4 linked regions of the Homo sapiens genome follow. The protein of the gene in region 1 purifies or fractionates together with the protein of each later gene. This does not show direct contact. Each region holds a gene or a part of one and is shown in the gene's direction. Other genes may lie near its edges.

Evidence for each region. Proteins that work in one complex are often made in the same cells at the same time.
Region 2: the proteins of TMED5 (region 1) and WDR73 purify together in Homo sapiens (co-immunoprecipitation; one large-scale study listed by IntAct). This does not show direct contact.
Region 3: the proteins of TMED5 (region 1) and THAP12 purify together in Homo sapiens (affinity purification with mass spectrometry; one large-scale study listed by BioGRID and IntAct). This does not show direct contact.
Region 4: the proteins of TMED5 (region 1) and ILDR2 purify together in Homo sapiens (co-immunoprecipitation; one large-scale study listed by IntAct). This does not show direct contact.

Annotation. Positions count from the first base shown.
Region 1 is NC_000001.11:93,173,112-93,178,697, reverse strand, and holds part of TMED5 (transmembrane emp24 domain-containing protein 5 isoform 1 precursor), read left to right. Parts: intron 1-5,586. UniProt on the Homo sapiens protein: Potential role in vesicular protein trafficking, mainly in the early secretory pathway. Required for the maintenance of the Golgi apparatus; involved in protein exchange between Golgi stacks during assembly.
Region 2 is NC_000015.10:84,641,535-84,644,359, reverse strand, and holds part of WDR73 (integrator complex assembly factor WDR73), read left to right. Parts: intron 1-636; coding exon 637-890; 3' UTR 891-2,825. UniProt on the Homo sapiens protein: Component of a multiprotein complex required for the assembly of the RNA endonuclease module of the integrator complex. Associates with INTS9 and INTS11 in the cytoplasm, stabilizing the INTS9-INTS11 heterodimer and blocking the active site of INTS11.
Region 3 is NC_000011.10:76,360,633-76,364,208, reverse strand, and holds part of THAP12 (52 kDa repressor of the inhibitor of the protein kinase), read left to right. Parts: intron 1-3,145; coding exon 3,146-3,253; intron 3,254-3,576. UniProt on the Homo sapiens protein: Upstream regulator of interferon-induced serine/threonine protein kinase R (PKR). May block the PKR-inhibitory function of DNAJC3, resulting in restoration of kinase activity and suppression of cell growth.
Region 4 is NC_000001.11:166,969,041-166,972,616, reverse strand, and holds part of ILDR2 (immunoglobulin-like domain-containing receptor 2 isoform 1 precursor), read left to right. Parts: exon of another isoform or gene 1-346; intron 347-1,753; exon of another isoform or gene 1,754-1,832; intron 1,833-3,576. UniProt on the Homo sapiens protein: May be involved in ER stress pathways with effects on lipid homeostasis and insulin secretion. With ILDR1 and LSR, involved in the maintain of the epithelial barrier function through the recruitment of MARVELD2/tricellulin to tricellular tight junctions.

The DNA of each region.
Region 1 (5,586 bases):
ACTGAGGCTAAAACTCAGTGTTTCTTGATTTCCAGTAAAGTTCAAAAGTTCAACATTTACTGAACAGTTAACACGTGCCAGGAATTGTGCATGGAGGTGGGGGAGACGGAGGGGGAGCTGGGTTGTGCGGGATGTAGGTAAAAGAGAAAGAAAGAATCCCTCTTCTCAAAGAGCTTAATAAAGGTTACTGGCTCATAAACAGGTAATTTCAATAAAGGATGGCTAAGTACCAGTAGAGGAGGGTCACTTCTAAGGGTTTCAGAAGAGGATTCCTGGAGAAAATAAAATTTAATCCAGAAAGATGCTTAATTGAGACGAAAATGCCAGGAACAAGGGGCATTTCAGAAAAGCGAACAAAAAGATCCATAGTTCTTAAAATACATAGTGTAAGTGGGGATGGTTAGTGTGTAGTGGACACTACAAGTACTGAGTTTGTATTAGACTTTAAGACATATAAAGTCTAGGGTGGGAGTAGCAGAAAAGGACATCGGAGAGGCCAGAAGGCTGGGGTCATTAAGCATGAATCATAGCCTTGTTTGCCGTGCTGAGTAGGTTTTCCTTAATTTTGTACAAGTCCATTTAAGATTTAAGCAGATCACTGGATGCAGTGTGGAAAATGGATTTAAGGAGAGCAAAATTAGAGTCAAGGAAACTAACTAGAGGGCTAGTGAAATAGTCTAGATAAGAAAACAATTTGTATTAATAAAAAAATCTTCAGTATTTACACACATATTAGGGAAGATATCTATTTTAACTACTGTCCTCTTATAGTTAAGAGCACCAGCTCTTAACCTTAGCCTGGGTTCAAATCTTGACTCTGCCTACTTAAAACTTATGTGATCTTCTCACTTGTAAAATAGAGATAATAATTGTAACTACATCATAGAGTTGATTTGAAAAAGCATGAGTTAATAAATGCTCATATTCAGTGTAAAGTAGTCTATTAAAAAATGCTCATAGATCATCCCTGACACATAGTAAATAATCAATGAATGTTAATTTTACATTTATACCTCTATAGTTATGTAGCTGGCTTGGTTTAGCTTTATTCTTTACATCTTTAGTCACTCTTAAAGGGACTGTTCCTTTTTTTTTTTTTTTTTTTTTTTTTTTGAGACAGAGTCTCCCTCTGTCACTCTGTTACCCAGGCTGGAGTGCAGTGGCGCGACCTTGGCCCACAGCAACCTTCATCTCCCGAGTTCAAGTGATTCTCCCGCCTCAGCTTCCCGAGTAGCTGGATTACAGGCATGTGCCACCACACCCAGCTAATTTTTGTATTTTTAGTAGAGACGGGGTTTCACTATGTTGGCCAGACTGGTCCCAAACTCCTGATCTCAAGTGATCTGCCAGCCTCAGCCTCCAAAGTGCTGGGATTATAGGTGTGAGCCACCGCGCCCGGCTGGGACTATTCCTTTAAAACATTCTCCCTAAACAATTTGTTTTGATTAAGGAAAGAGGTAAAATCATTTGTCTGTAATCCTAGACAGTGTTGGTGAGATGTGTAGGGTAACTATCATCTTCCACCCTGTTTGTATTTCCCAACTTGTTTAATTTCCCAGTAACTACATCCTACTAATTTTTGTCTTAAAGTTAGTTTTTAAAATTTTATAGAACAATCTAGTTTTGTCCTTGGTTACTTATTGAAAATTTTACTAATTTCTTACTTTTTAGGTTTTAGGAGAATACTTTTTGGATAATTGACTAGCCTCACATTATATTGATAGAGGTTCTTGAAAACTTTAATGCCAATTCATGTATCTTATGACTAAAATAGATAATCCATTTAGAAATTTAAGTCATTCTTGCGTGCTTGATATGTGTCAGCACTATCCAAGTTGCTAGGGATACAATGGTGAGTGAAAATATCAGCTAGGTGCAGTGGCTCACACCTGTAATCCCAACAGTTTGGGAGGCCAAGGTGGGAGGATCACTCAAGCACAGGCGTTTCACACCAGCCTGGACAACATAGCAAGACCCCATCTCTACCAAAAATAAAGTTAGCCAGGCATGGTAGCACACACTTGTGGTTCCAGCTACTTGGGAGGCTGAGGTGGGAGGATCACTTGAGCCCAGGAGGTTGAGGCTATGGTGAGCTGTGATCACACCACTGTACTCCAGCCTCGGTGACAAGAGCGAGACCCTGCCTCAAAAAAATATATATATATATGTTTGTGTGTGTGTGTGTGTGTATAGTCTGTGCCCTCATACAATCAAGTATTAATTAATCAAATTATTACACAAATACATGTCAAAATATTTACTAGGGGTAATGAAGGTAAGTTCATAAGACTATGAGTGGGCTCAGTAGGAGGACTTCATTTTATCTGGAAATTGAAAGACATCCAGAAGTAGAGTTAAGATCTACAGAATTATCAGACTTTCACTAGGCATAATGGAATGAGTGGTACGAGACAATGGGTAAAAAAGAACAACAACGTGCCAAGATACTAAGGAAGAAGAGAGAAAGATACCTTTGAGGTCCTGAAAGATAGGATACAGAGAGAGAAAAGTGGTACAAGTCTACTTTAGAGAAGTCAGTAGCAACAGCAACCAAATCATTGTGGGCTTTTAGGTCCTTGTTAAGGATATGGGTCTTTTGCAGAGACCAGTAATACGCCACTGAATAGTTATAAGCAGGTTAACTCGATCTGTGTTTTTTAAAAGATCGTTTTGGCCACAAGGTATTGAGCCTCTCTGTACCAGTTTCTATACTTTAACAGTAATCACCTGCTCCCCACTATATATTATTGTGAAGAATAAATATGCTAATACATGTAAAAGGAATGGTATCTAGCACCAAATAAGCACTCAAAAAATGTTAGCTAGAAAATAAACCCTGAGCCTAGAACAACAATACTTTTTTAAGGGCATAATAGGCACTAAAAAGTATCTATTGAATGAGTGAACCAGACGTTTACCAAACATGTAAAACTATCTGGGTGAGTTTTTGGGAGAATATAGCTATATCAATTTTTAAAAATTTTTATTAGTCTTTCATTTTTGTATAGAGCCAAATTTCAATATTTTCTGGTAAACTGGCCATTTCATCTAATTTTTAAAATTTACTTGTATAATATACCTGATGCCATTTGGAATATCTCCTATTTCCATTTTATCTACAGGTATACATGCCTAATATTACATGTATAAAGTAGATAGGACTACTTTATTGATCTTTGGGAAAAAATGTCTTTTGAGTATTTATTATTTTTTGTTTTATATACATACACACACATATCTATTATATATACACACATTTTATACATATACAAAATATATAATATATTCATATACATATAAATGTATATGTATATATAAATATGTATATAAAAAAACAAAAACTCAAAAGCCATATATGTGTGTGTGTGTGTGTGTGTGTGTATATATATATATATATAGGCATAAGGGAGTAAGTGGAACAAGACAATGGATTAGAAGGCACAACATGTGCCAAGATACTAAGGAAGAAGAGTGAAAGATACCTTTGAGGTCCATTTATATATATATATATATATATATATAAATGGCTTTTAAGTATTATATAAATATATATATATAAATGGCTGGGTTTTGGGGAGAATAATATATTTAATAATTTAATATATATATTTGGGTTTTATGTGAGTCTGTGTGTGTGTATATATACTTTTTTTTTTTTTTTAAGAGATAGGGTCTCCAGCAATCCCATTACTGGGTACACACCCAGAGGAATATAAATCATTCTACCATAAAGACACATGCATGCGAATGTTCAGTGCAACACTATTCACAATAGCAAAGACATGGAATCAACTAAATGCCCAGCAATGACAGTTTGGATAAAGAAAATGTGGTACATATACACCATGAAATACTATGCAGCCATAAAAAAGAATGAGATCATGTCTTTTGTGGGAATATGGGTTGAGCTGGAGGCTATTATCCTTAGCAAACTAACACAGAAACAGAAAACTAAATACCACGTGTTCTCACTTAGAAGTGAGAGCTAAATGGTAAGAACTTATGAACACAAAGACGGAAACAACAGACACTGGGATTTACTTGAGGAGGGAGGGTGGAAGGACAGAGAGGCACAGAAAAGTTAACTATTGGGTACTGGGCTTTATATCTGGGTGATGAAATACTAAGTTGGTGCAAAAATAATTGTGGTTTTTAACACGTTTACCTATGTAACCTTCACATGTATCCCCAAGCCTAAAATAAAAGTTAAAAAAAAGAGAGATATGGGGTCTCACTATGTTGCCTAGGCTGAATTTGAATTTGGGCACAAGTGATACTCCCACTTCAACCAGCCTCCTGGGTAGCTGGGACTACAGGCACATGCCACCACACCTGTCTCCTTTATGAATTTTTTTACTTCCAATTATAAAAGTAATATACAACCTCCTTAGAGTAAGTCAAACAATACAAAGATGTAAAAGCAAAAAAAGCTGGGTGCGGTGGCTCACACCTGTAATCCCAGCATTTTGGGAGGCCAAAGTGGGTGGATCACGAGGTCAGGAGTTGGAGACCAGCCTGACCAACATGGTGAAACACCATCTCTTAAAAAAAAAGAAAAAACAAAAAACAAAAATTAGCTGGGCGCAGTGGTGCGCGCCTGTAGTCCCAGCTACTCGGGAGGCTGAGGCAGGAGAATCACTTGAACCCGGAAAGCAGAGATTGCAGTGAGCCGAGATCGTGCTGCTGCACTCCAGCCTGGGTGACAGAGTGAGACTCCATCTCAAAAAAAAAACAAAAAAAAACCTCTTTGTAACTCTATTGAATGCCTGTTGTCATTCTCCTAGATGTGAACTCTTCCACACCTTTTCCCATACTCATAAAAACATATAGGGTTTGATGGGGTGAAACACATATGATTATTTAATTAAAATGTCATGGTCTTTAAGTCCTTACAAAGTTTTTACCAATAGGTAAACAAACCAAATCAGTTTTTAATAAGGAAGTCTATTGGTTCATATAACTGGAAGTCTGAATAGGACTGATTTCAGGCTTAATTTGTTTTCCTCTGGTTCTTACGGCTCTGCTCTCTTGACTTTTCTTAAAGAATTGAATTACTTAAAGAATTCTTCACTGACAGATATTTTTCCTAAATGCATCAAAACTAGTATTTTATTGTCTTCTGACTTCGATTATAGCTGTTGAAGCTTCCTGTCAGTTTGTTATATATTTGTAGTTCATCTCTATTTTCTCTTGTAGCTTTTTAAATTTTCTGCTTCTGCATTTTCACTGCAGTTTAAGTGGATCATCCAAGCTTCTTAATCTCTCATAATTTCTCTCTTTGTCTCACTCTCCTATTTTATGGATAATTTCTTCAGCTCTATCTTCTACATCATTAGCTTTAAAAATTTATTATCAGTATTATTTTTGATTGGCAAATTATAATTGTATACATTTATGCGGTATAGCGTGATGTTTTGATACATATATACAACATGTAATGATTAAATCAGGCTAATTAACATTGCCTTGCCTATAATTTTTTATGATGAGCTATTTGAAATTCAGTCTCAGTTATTTTGAAATATACATTATTATTGACCATAGTCACCTTCCTGTGCAATAGATCTCAAAACCTATTCCTTCTGT
Region 2 (2,825 bases), on another chromosome or scaffold:
CAGTACCAGGAAGATGGCAGGATGGAATGAGTGTGTGTGCAGCTAGATCGTGCAGGGACGTGAAGGTATTTCTCTCCAAAGGCTTCTGTTTCCCCCATCGAGTAGGAGACAAGGCCATCTGCTGAAAGGGACCCAGAGGTAGGGGACTGGACTCTGGGGCAACTTGAAAAGGTTTGAAGAAGTCTCTTAAGCCTCAGTTTCCTGGGTAAAATAACAGTATCTGTGTCATACAGTTCTGAGGATTAAAAGAGCTAATACTTGTCCAGAATTAGCCTTCGAGCCTCACGCATAACAGGTGCACAACGGATGCTCATGGTTACATGCCCCACGGAGTCATCAGCTGCCAACACTGAGGGCAGATGCTACTTGCCCGTGGTTAGCCTTTTAAGTGCCTTGATTCCTCATCCAATAGCCTGTTTTGGTACCATAGAACAAATTATAAAAAGTATTTTAGGGGCTGGGTGCCTGTAATCCCAGCATTTTGGGAGGCTGAGATGGGAGGATCGCTTGAGGCTAGGAGTTCAAGACCATCCTGGTCAACATGGTGAAACCCCATCTCTATTAAAAATAGAAAGAAAATTATTTTAAAATAAAATTAGGGACTCATTGTCAAGCCTCTCTTTTCTGTATTCTCAGGTTTTGATGGTACAGTCCAGGTCTATGATGCCACATCTTGGGATGGAACACGGAGCCAAGATGGAACACGGAGCCAAGTAGAACCTCTCTTCACTCACAGAGGTCACATCTTCCTAGATGGAAATGGGATGGACCCTGCTCCTTTGGTCACCACCCACACCTGGCATCCCTGCAGACCAAGGACTTTGTTATCAGCAACAAATGATGCCTCTCTGCATGTGTGGGACTGGGTGGACCTTTGTGCCCCCCGCTGACACCAGCATCTTTCCATCTAGGCCTCTAGAAAGGGGAGGAGCTGCTGTAGTAGCAAGGGTGCTCATGTAGGACTCAAGTGACTACCAGTCCCTGTTACCAGCTGTGTGGCCTTGGGCAAGTCTGCCAGCGTCACTTAGCCTCAGTTTCCTTATCTGTAAAATGAGGATAGTAAGAACTACCTCGTAGTGATATTGCGAAGGTTAGAAGAAACGCATGGCATAATTACTTGGTAGCTATTGTTAGATCTGGGAGTGTGAAATGGTAGCGTTTTGTCCCTGTCTTCACACTATCATAGGGAGAATCAAAAGAGCTAACAAATATAAACATGCTTTGTGAATTTTTTTAAAGAAAAAAATGTAGAGGGGCCAATAAACATGAAAAAATCCCAGCCCTAGTAGCAATTAAGGAAATAGCAAAACAGGATTTCTGCTCCTCTTGAGTGGGTCTCATGGGAACACAGGTGCACTTTCCCACACTTGTCCCCCCAGGTGACTAGGTTCAAGAGACATTTGCTTTTGGTGGCCCCACAAACATTTCCTTTTGAGGGCCCATAGTGAATATTAAAGTGTGCTGGACATGGTGGCTCATGCCTGTAATCCCAGCACTTTCAGAGGCTGAGGTGGGCAGATTGCTTGAGCTGAGGAGTTTGAGACCAGCCTGGGCAACATAGCAAGATCCCTTCCCTTAAAAAAAAAAAAAAATTTGGCTGGGCATGGTGGCTCATGCCTGTAATCCCAGCAATGTAGGCAGCCAAGACAGGTGGATCACTTGAGTCCAGGAGTTCGAGACTAGCCTGAGCAACATGGCGAAACCTTGTCTCTACTAAAAATACAAGTTAGCTGGTTGTGGTGGTATGAGCCTGCAGTCCCAGCTATTCAAGAGGCTGAGGTGGGAGGGTTGCCTGAGCCTGGCAGTTGAAGTTTGCAGTGAGCTGTGATCATGCCACTGTATTCCAGCCTGGGCAACAGAATGAGACCCTGTTACACACACACACACAAAATAGATAAGTTGTTCACTCTGTCAGCATCTATTAGCCCTTCCCATGTGCAACACTAATTACATGCTAGAAATACATAAATGAGAGGCTTCCTAAGGTGGTTGAATTTTTTTTTTTTTTTTTTTTGTAGTAGAGATGGAGTCTTGCTCTGTCACCCAGGCTTGAGTGCAGTGGCGTGATCTCGGCTCACTGCAACCTCCACCTCATGGGTTCAAGCAATGCTCCTGCCTCAGCCTGCCAAGTAGCTGGGATTACAGGCACGTACCACCATGCCCAGGTAATTTTTGTATTTTTGGTACAGACGGAGTTTCACCATGTTGGCCAGAATGGTCTTGATCTCTTGACCTTGTGATCTACCCACCTCGGCCTCCCGAAGAGCTGGGATTACAGGTGTGAGCCACCGCGCCCGGCCAGGGGATTTCTCCTGTGTGAATTCGCTGGTTAAGTGATAATTAACTGCAGTTAAAATTCAGGTCAAGCATGTGGCTCATGTCTGTAATCCCAGTACTTTGGGAGGCTGAGGTGGGAGGATAGCTTGAGTCCAGGAGGAGTTCGAGATCAGCCTGGGCACCATGGTGAACCCCTGTCTCTAAAAAAAAAGAAAGATTTTTATTTAAAAAACCTAAACAAATTCAGATAGGAATTTAAAGATAGACCAGGCACAGTGGCTCACGCCTGTAATCCCAGCACTTTGTGGGGGGCCAAGGTGGGTGGATCACTTGAGGTCAGGAGTTCAAGACCAGCCTGGCCAACATGGTGAAACCCCGTCTCTACTAAAAATATAAAAATTAGAGACGGGCATGGTGGTGGCACACCTGTAATCCCCACTACTCAGGAGGGTGAGGCAGGAGAATTGCTTGAACCTGAGAGGTAGAGGCTGCAGTGAACCGAGATTGTGCCACTGCATTCCAGCCTGGGTGACAGGGTGAGACTCCAT
Region 3 (3,576 bases), on another chromosome or scaffold:
ATGTTCTTGACATGAAGTAAAAATATCCCAAATTATTTTAAATACATTTGCCATATGCATTTTTGCATTTTTATTTTAGTAATAAATATGGTCTCTTAATTAGATAATTCTAACCAGATTGTGAGAAATTTAAAGGATAGTTCATTCTTACATTCTTTAGTTAGAGAATAGAACAGAAAGATGAGCCAGGTTTGCTTTTTTAATTTCTAAATGATTCTTCAATCTTGAATAAATGAACGCAAATGTGAGAAAATGTTCTTTCTATACGTCTAGGAGATGTTGTTATTAAAAACTGGATTTCTGGGCTGGATATGGTAGCTCACACCTGTAATCCCAGCACTTTGGGAGGCTGAGGCGGGCAGATCATTTGCGGTCAGGAGTTTGAGACCAGCCTGGCCAACGGGGAAACCCCTTCTCTACTAAAAATACCAAACAAAACAAAACAAAAAAAATTTTGCTGGGCATGGCGGTGCACACGTGTAATCCCAGCTGCTCAGGAGGCTGAAACAGGAGAATCGCTTGAACCAAGGAGGCCGAGGTTGCAGTGAGCCAAGATTGTGCCACTGCACTTCAGCCTTGGTGACAGAGTGAGACTGTGTCTCAAAAACAAACAAACAAAAACCCCTGGATTTTCTGATATCTGTATCTAAATGTTTAAGAGTTTTGGCTTTATTAGTTTGGCATTGAAGATCTCATCAGTAGCAAGGCACAGTGGCACGTGTCTGTAGTCCCAGCTACTCAGGAGTCCAAGGCTGAAGGATTGCTTGAGCCTAGGAATTCAGAGCCAGCCTGGGCAACATGGTGGTGAGACCCTGTCTTTAAACAGACAAAAAAAAAAAGATTTCATCAGTAAACATTCATGACTACTGAATTTGGCCGGAGCCAAATATTTTATTATTTTGATGCTAGAGTAAGATTATTCTTTTATGCTCAAACCTTAATTCAGCAGTTAAAGATTAAATCTTGATACTGAGATACTTGGTATCATACGTAGTATTTGAATATTGTCTTTTTTGGCATGTGTCCTTATAGATATTTATATTTTTTATTATTATTATTTTTTTTTGAAATAGGGTCTCACTCTGTTGCCTAAGCTGGGGTGCAGTGGCGCAGCCATGGCTCACTGCAGCCCCGACCTCCCAGGCTCAAGCAATCCTCCCCGCTGAGCCTCCCAAGTAGCTGGAACTACAGGCACATGCCACCATACCTCGCTAATTTTTGTATTTTTTGTAGAGATGGAGTTTTGCCGTGTTACCTAAGCTGGTCTTGAACTCCTGGGGTCAAGCCGTCTACCCGGCCAAGGCCTCCCAAAGTGTTGGAATTACAGGTGTGAGCCAACATTCCTGGCCAAAATAAATATTTGTAAAATGTCATTTTTTTCATTCATACATTCTGTTTTCTGATCTATAATATCTTTGCTTTATTTGCAAATAGAAAATCAATTTGATTTGACTTTTAAAAATTTGTTAAAATGTTTTATTCCTCCCCTCCTTATTTAATAATTAGTAAGATATCAAGAATTGACTGTGTATGTGTTTTTGCTTATTTTGGGGACATTTGCTCGGTGTGAAAGATGGGGGAGCTTTGAATATAATAACTTGTACTCCCTTCAGTGATTGTGTCCCTAACCAATTCCTCATTCAGCCTCCCTAGTAGACTCAGGATCACGAGCCCAGCACTAGAAGTTGAGTGTTACTAGGAAGTCAGAGAATCATCTTTGTGTTTTCTATTATGGCATGGAATTGAACTAGAAAATATTGACTCTGAATAGAAATTCATCCCAAATGTGTTTAACAACTCTTTGGGTACAACCCAAGATAGTGTGTTCCATTTAGATACATGTTTTCCCTTCATGTCTTCCCAACCTCCCTTCCTTGGGTGAACAAATTTAGAAGTTGTTATTTTTGTTTGGCATGTTCTTTGAGCATGCTTAGATATTTTGAAATAATCACTGCTTCAAAGAAAGCTTATTTAAATGAAGTATGTCTTATCTTTATCATTCCAAATTCAGGAAGAAATTAAAGGCACTATTCTTTGGACTGTCTGAGGGGAGTGTAATAGCAGTTATTTATTACTGTCCCTCTTAATAAGCTTCTTGTCTTTTACTCAGCCTCCTCAGGGCTGGCAGTAGGACCGTTACCATCTAAGTATGCATCCAGCTTCTAGCCAAGTTGGATGAAATTAACAGGAAGTAGGGTAGAGTATGATCATTCTTTCATAAGATGATTAGGACTTGAAAGAGATACAGAAATACCTAGATTAGCATTTGCAAAAATGTGATTATGTATATCAGTATCACTTGTGGCGTGAGAGTTGGTTTCATGTGGCAGATGAATCAATTTTTATTTTAGAAGTTTTGTAGTATGTGTTAAAAACATGTTTAAAAACTTTTTTAAAAACATAAGATAACATCAGATCATTCTTCCTACAGTTTTATTACTTAAGACAGTGTTAACTAAAAAATGAGTAGATTGTGTAAAAATACAGATGGTAATATAACTGAAATGGCAAGCATTGTGATCATTAGTATGTGAATAATTTCATTTTAGGAAATGTTGATCTAGTTCAATACCAGAATTTTATTCAGAAAAAGAAACTGGGGCCCAAAAAGGGAAAGTAATTTAGCCAGGGTGTCTTAGTGAGTCACTCACTGGTAGAGTTTGGACTAGTTCCTAGGTCTCCTGGGTCCCAGTCCAATATTTTCACTGTGCCTTGATGCTTCTCAGTAATATTAGCAAAAGTGGAACATTAGGTAAAATAGGGATGCATTATTATGGAACATACAAGAGTGCAGATTATTTTGGGAGACTTGTACCTCCTGTAGATTTGGTGGGCTCATGGAAGGACAGTACAGATAAAGTAGCTGGGATGCTGAATTAGAAACAGATATGCAAAATGCAAGTACATTTTATATTTTATGCCTACCTTCAATTCAGTTTCTTAATTTATAATAGATTGCCAGAAGGGCAAATGCAGGCACAGTTGGAAATAGTAGACTGACCTGAACTGACATCAAATTCTGTAAGTCTCTATACTTTAGAGCTGGAGTTGAAGGAATATTGTGGAGGTCATTAACATAGAATTTTATTGATGTGTAATATATTTATAAGGACCATCTCTGAATTAACACAATTTTCTTTTTCAGAGTCCTTATAGGACAGTTCTTCGAGATAATGCAATACCAACAATATTTGATCTTACCAGTCATTTGAACAACCCACATAGTAGACACAGAAAACGAATAAAAGAACTGGTATGTCTATGTACTTTCAGCTTTCCCACCTTCCCCCATAATACTATGAAATCAAATACAGATGCATTTATGTTAAAATTAATCCAAATTACTCTCTATTTCAGAGGTAATGTAACGGGAAATAAATGTTATGGTTGTTAAATAGCCTAGATGTGAGATGATGAGTTTTAGTATTTAAATTGGAAAATCTCCCTCAGAGTTAGCCAGTTGATACTTGTTGACTTGGTCCAGAGTGTGCTGTTAATTACAGGCCACTAGCTCATTCCCTTCTGGAGAAGAAGGAAAAAGCTACCTTTTCTTTCATAGTAAGGAAAATAGAGCTG
Region 4 (3,576 bases), about 74 Mb from region 1:
TTTCATTACTAAAATTCTGTATGTCTTCCTGTTATATATTTAGCCTTGTGATTCCTTATTGCCATTGTGATGTTGCTTCCTGTAATATATTGGTTTTGTTATTGTTGCTGTTGTTGTTGTTATTTTGAACAAAACAAAATGCTTACCAGCTGCTATTTTAGCAACAGGTGCCATCTAGCAATAAGACTTGAAGGAGGGTTCACTCTGTCTTTGTTCCTGAATATGGGTGGTGTTTTATCCTTTCCTGGCAGCAGAGGCTGTGAGAAACGCTGGAGCTGTGTCGACACTCTGGGAACACACTCCTGGAGCAAGCGATGTGTTTTCCTGGAGGCTTCTTTGGGTATCTCTATGACAAAGATTGCTTGATGAATTAGCATTTCTTTTTCTTTTCTTTTTTTTTTTTGAGAGACAGAGTCTCACTCTGTCACCCAGGCCAGAGTGCATTGGCACCATCTCGGCTCACTGCAACCTCTGCCTCCTGGGTTCAAGCAATTCTTGTGCCTCAGCCTCCCAAGTAGCTGGGATTATAGGCACGCGCCACCACACCTGGCTAATTTTTGTATTTTTAGTAGAGTTGGGGTTTCACCATGTTGGCTACGTGGGTCTCAAACTCCCAACCCCAGGTGATATGCCCTCCTTGGCCTTCCAAAGTGCTGGGATTACAGATGTGAGCCACCATGCCCGGCCCTTTATTAGCATTTCTTTTGATTTCACTTGTTTGTCTATTCTACAAGCACATATTAAATTCCTGTGATTTCTAAGTATTATACTAAGTGCTGAGAATGAGGCACTAAAAGACATAGTCCTTGCCCTCAAAGCGTTGTCAGTCTAGTCAGTGATTCAAATAAGTTTTCAGCTATGCACAGTTGTTCATGCCTGTAATCCCAGCACTTTGGGAAGCTGAGGCAGGTGGATCTCTTTGAGCCCAGGAGTTTGAGACCAACCTGGACAACACAGTGAAACCTCATCTCTACAAAAAATACAAAAAAATTAGCCGGGCACGATGGCTTGCACCTGTAGTCCCAGCTACCCAAGGGCCTGAGTGGGAGGATTGCTTGAGTCAGGGAAGTAGAGGCTGCAGTGAGCTGAGATTGTGCCACTGTACTCCAGCCTGGGTGACAGAGTGAGACCTTGTCTCAAAACAAAAACCAAAAACCAAGTTTTCCAGTCACTTTGTCATGGTAGTTAAAGGTCCTTTGATGAGAGCCACACCCCTGCTGTGAGAGCATAGAGGAAGCACACTCAACCCAAACCAGGACTGGTGCAGCAGCTCTGAAACAAATTCCCAGAAAACGTGATAGCTGAGTTAAGATATTTGTTCATGAATAGTCAGTGAGTGACTTACTCCTATGTCCCAGAAGTTATGCTGGGGTTGAAAAGATGAATAAGTCATAGTCCTTGCTTTTAAGGTACTCAGTCTGGTGGTGGAGACACCAGTTATGGAGTAGCATTGTGCAAAAGCAGTGATAAAGATCTGTACTCTGGAGTGCCTTGAAGGGGCCCCCAACCCAGCCTGCAGTGGGAAGGGAGGTATAGGGAATGATCATTAGTTGGTCTGGTTTCATGTTCAGGTAGACACCTGGTGACTGAAGGATAGGCTTGGGTGTAAAGAGTTAAAATGTTATTAGCCCTGGAGAAAGAAGAATCGCTTTTAGAGACTGCTGACACCTCAACTTCCGTTATCTCTTTTCCTGTCCTGTATATCTTCCAATTTCTCTTCCTCCTCTGTTCTACTTTTCTCTGTGGAACGTACCTCGTCCATCTTCTTTCGTCACTTTAGCACAGCTCTCCCAGCTCGGCATTGTCCCCCAGCCTGGATGCTTCTCTCTGGACTAGGAGAGGGAAGTTATTTGAATATCCTCATCACTGTTTACACTTTAGACATAGGAGTATTCTGGGTGGCTAGTTTATATAGAATTGAGTATCAGTATGAGTAGTCTTGCACTACTCGCACTACGGTGCAAGTACCTAGTGCTTAGTTCAGTGTTAGTATTAGTACCAGGACACCGTAAGTAGAAAGAGCCCTGACCTGGGAGCTGAGGATTAGGTTCTAGTCCCACCTCCTCCATAAATCACTGTATAACCATGGGTTTGGATCTTGGTCTTAAATATTGAGCAAGGTGATTTTTAAAGTTAACTTCAGCTCTAAGATTCTAGGGTTCTGAAATTTTCCCCATTAAAATTTGATGAGTTGTAAATGAAAGCTAAAGAGTGACAGGTACATGATTCCTTTTATGATTTACCCAGGAAGAGCCATCAAGGGAGACCCAGTTATTTATTTTTTTTCAGACTTTCTCAAACCATTAATGATTGGAATGAAAAACAGGTAGAAAGGAAGAGCTCTTCCTCAAATTTTCAGAAGAACAAATGGAGCTGTTGCTGGACAGGACAGGTTCTACTCTGAACAATTAAATGTGGTCATATTGGGAACTGGTAAAGTGAGGCAAGTACTTTGGACGAGATGGGATGAATCTTACTCCAGCCAATCTGGTCCTAGAATGTCCCTTCTAGTCCCAAATTTTTGTTCTGGGACTTACCTGTTCACCCCTTCCAACTATTTTTACTCTTATGCCTTCTTTCTCCCGATGTTTTTCTCACTTATTTACATGCTATGATGCTTTTCTATGTGTTAAATGGCTTTCATAGACATTATCCCATTTGATCTTGCCAAGTAAGTAAGGCTGGTATTGCCTACCTACACTTAAGAAGACCAAGGCTCAGAGGAAATAAATGACTTGTCCAAGCCCATGATATCTTACTGGTTAAAAGAATAAGAAATAATGTCACTGCCTTAATATGACTTGGTTATTTGAAGTGCCTGAATTCAGGGAAACATTCTTTTCTGGTTAAGGTAGATCAAACTGTAACTCCTGATTTAGGTGAACATACATGGTGTCTATTATGGGGCATTGGATATTGAGGCACAGAGTTCATAGAACTCAGGGAAATAGTGCAAGAAAAGTGAGAAAGAATGGCAGTTAGTTTTTCGTAATGAAATCCTAAGATCTAGTGGGAAAGGAGCGAATGAAGAGGACTCCAGCAAAGCACGTGAGAACAGAGGATGTGCCCCAGTGACAGAGCAGAAACTGATGGCACATCAGAGCCCATCTGGGACTAGGGGCTGCTGCTGTGCTCTCAGGAGCCACACAGGATGTAGCTACAGCATATGCATGCTTAAAGTCTCAGTCTTCAAGATAGTTTTTGGCTTTCTGAAAATGAAAGAAAGTGTTTTGGATGACTAGAGTTCTTTACAGGCCAAGGAACAAGGAAGAACTCAGAAGAACATGCCGCTTCCTCTATTCTCCTTCAGCATGTGGAACCCTACAGAAAGTGGTGCTGAATAAGGAGTAGGGCCCTTGCATTCAGCTGAGACCCTGTATCATCACTCCTTCCATGCCCTTGCCTCACCAGGAGGCAGCGTGTAGGGGGGATGGTGAGGCTCAAACTGACCTGGATTTGATGCCAGCTTAGGATTTTGTCTTTTTTTGTTGTTGTTGTTGCTTTAATAATGGAAAGCTAACCTACCTTATAGGGTTGTTGTGATAATTAAAATTAAATTATATAAAACTTCTAGCA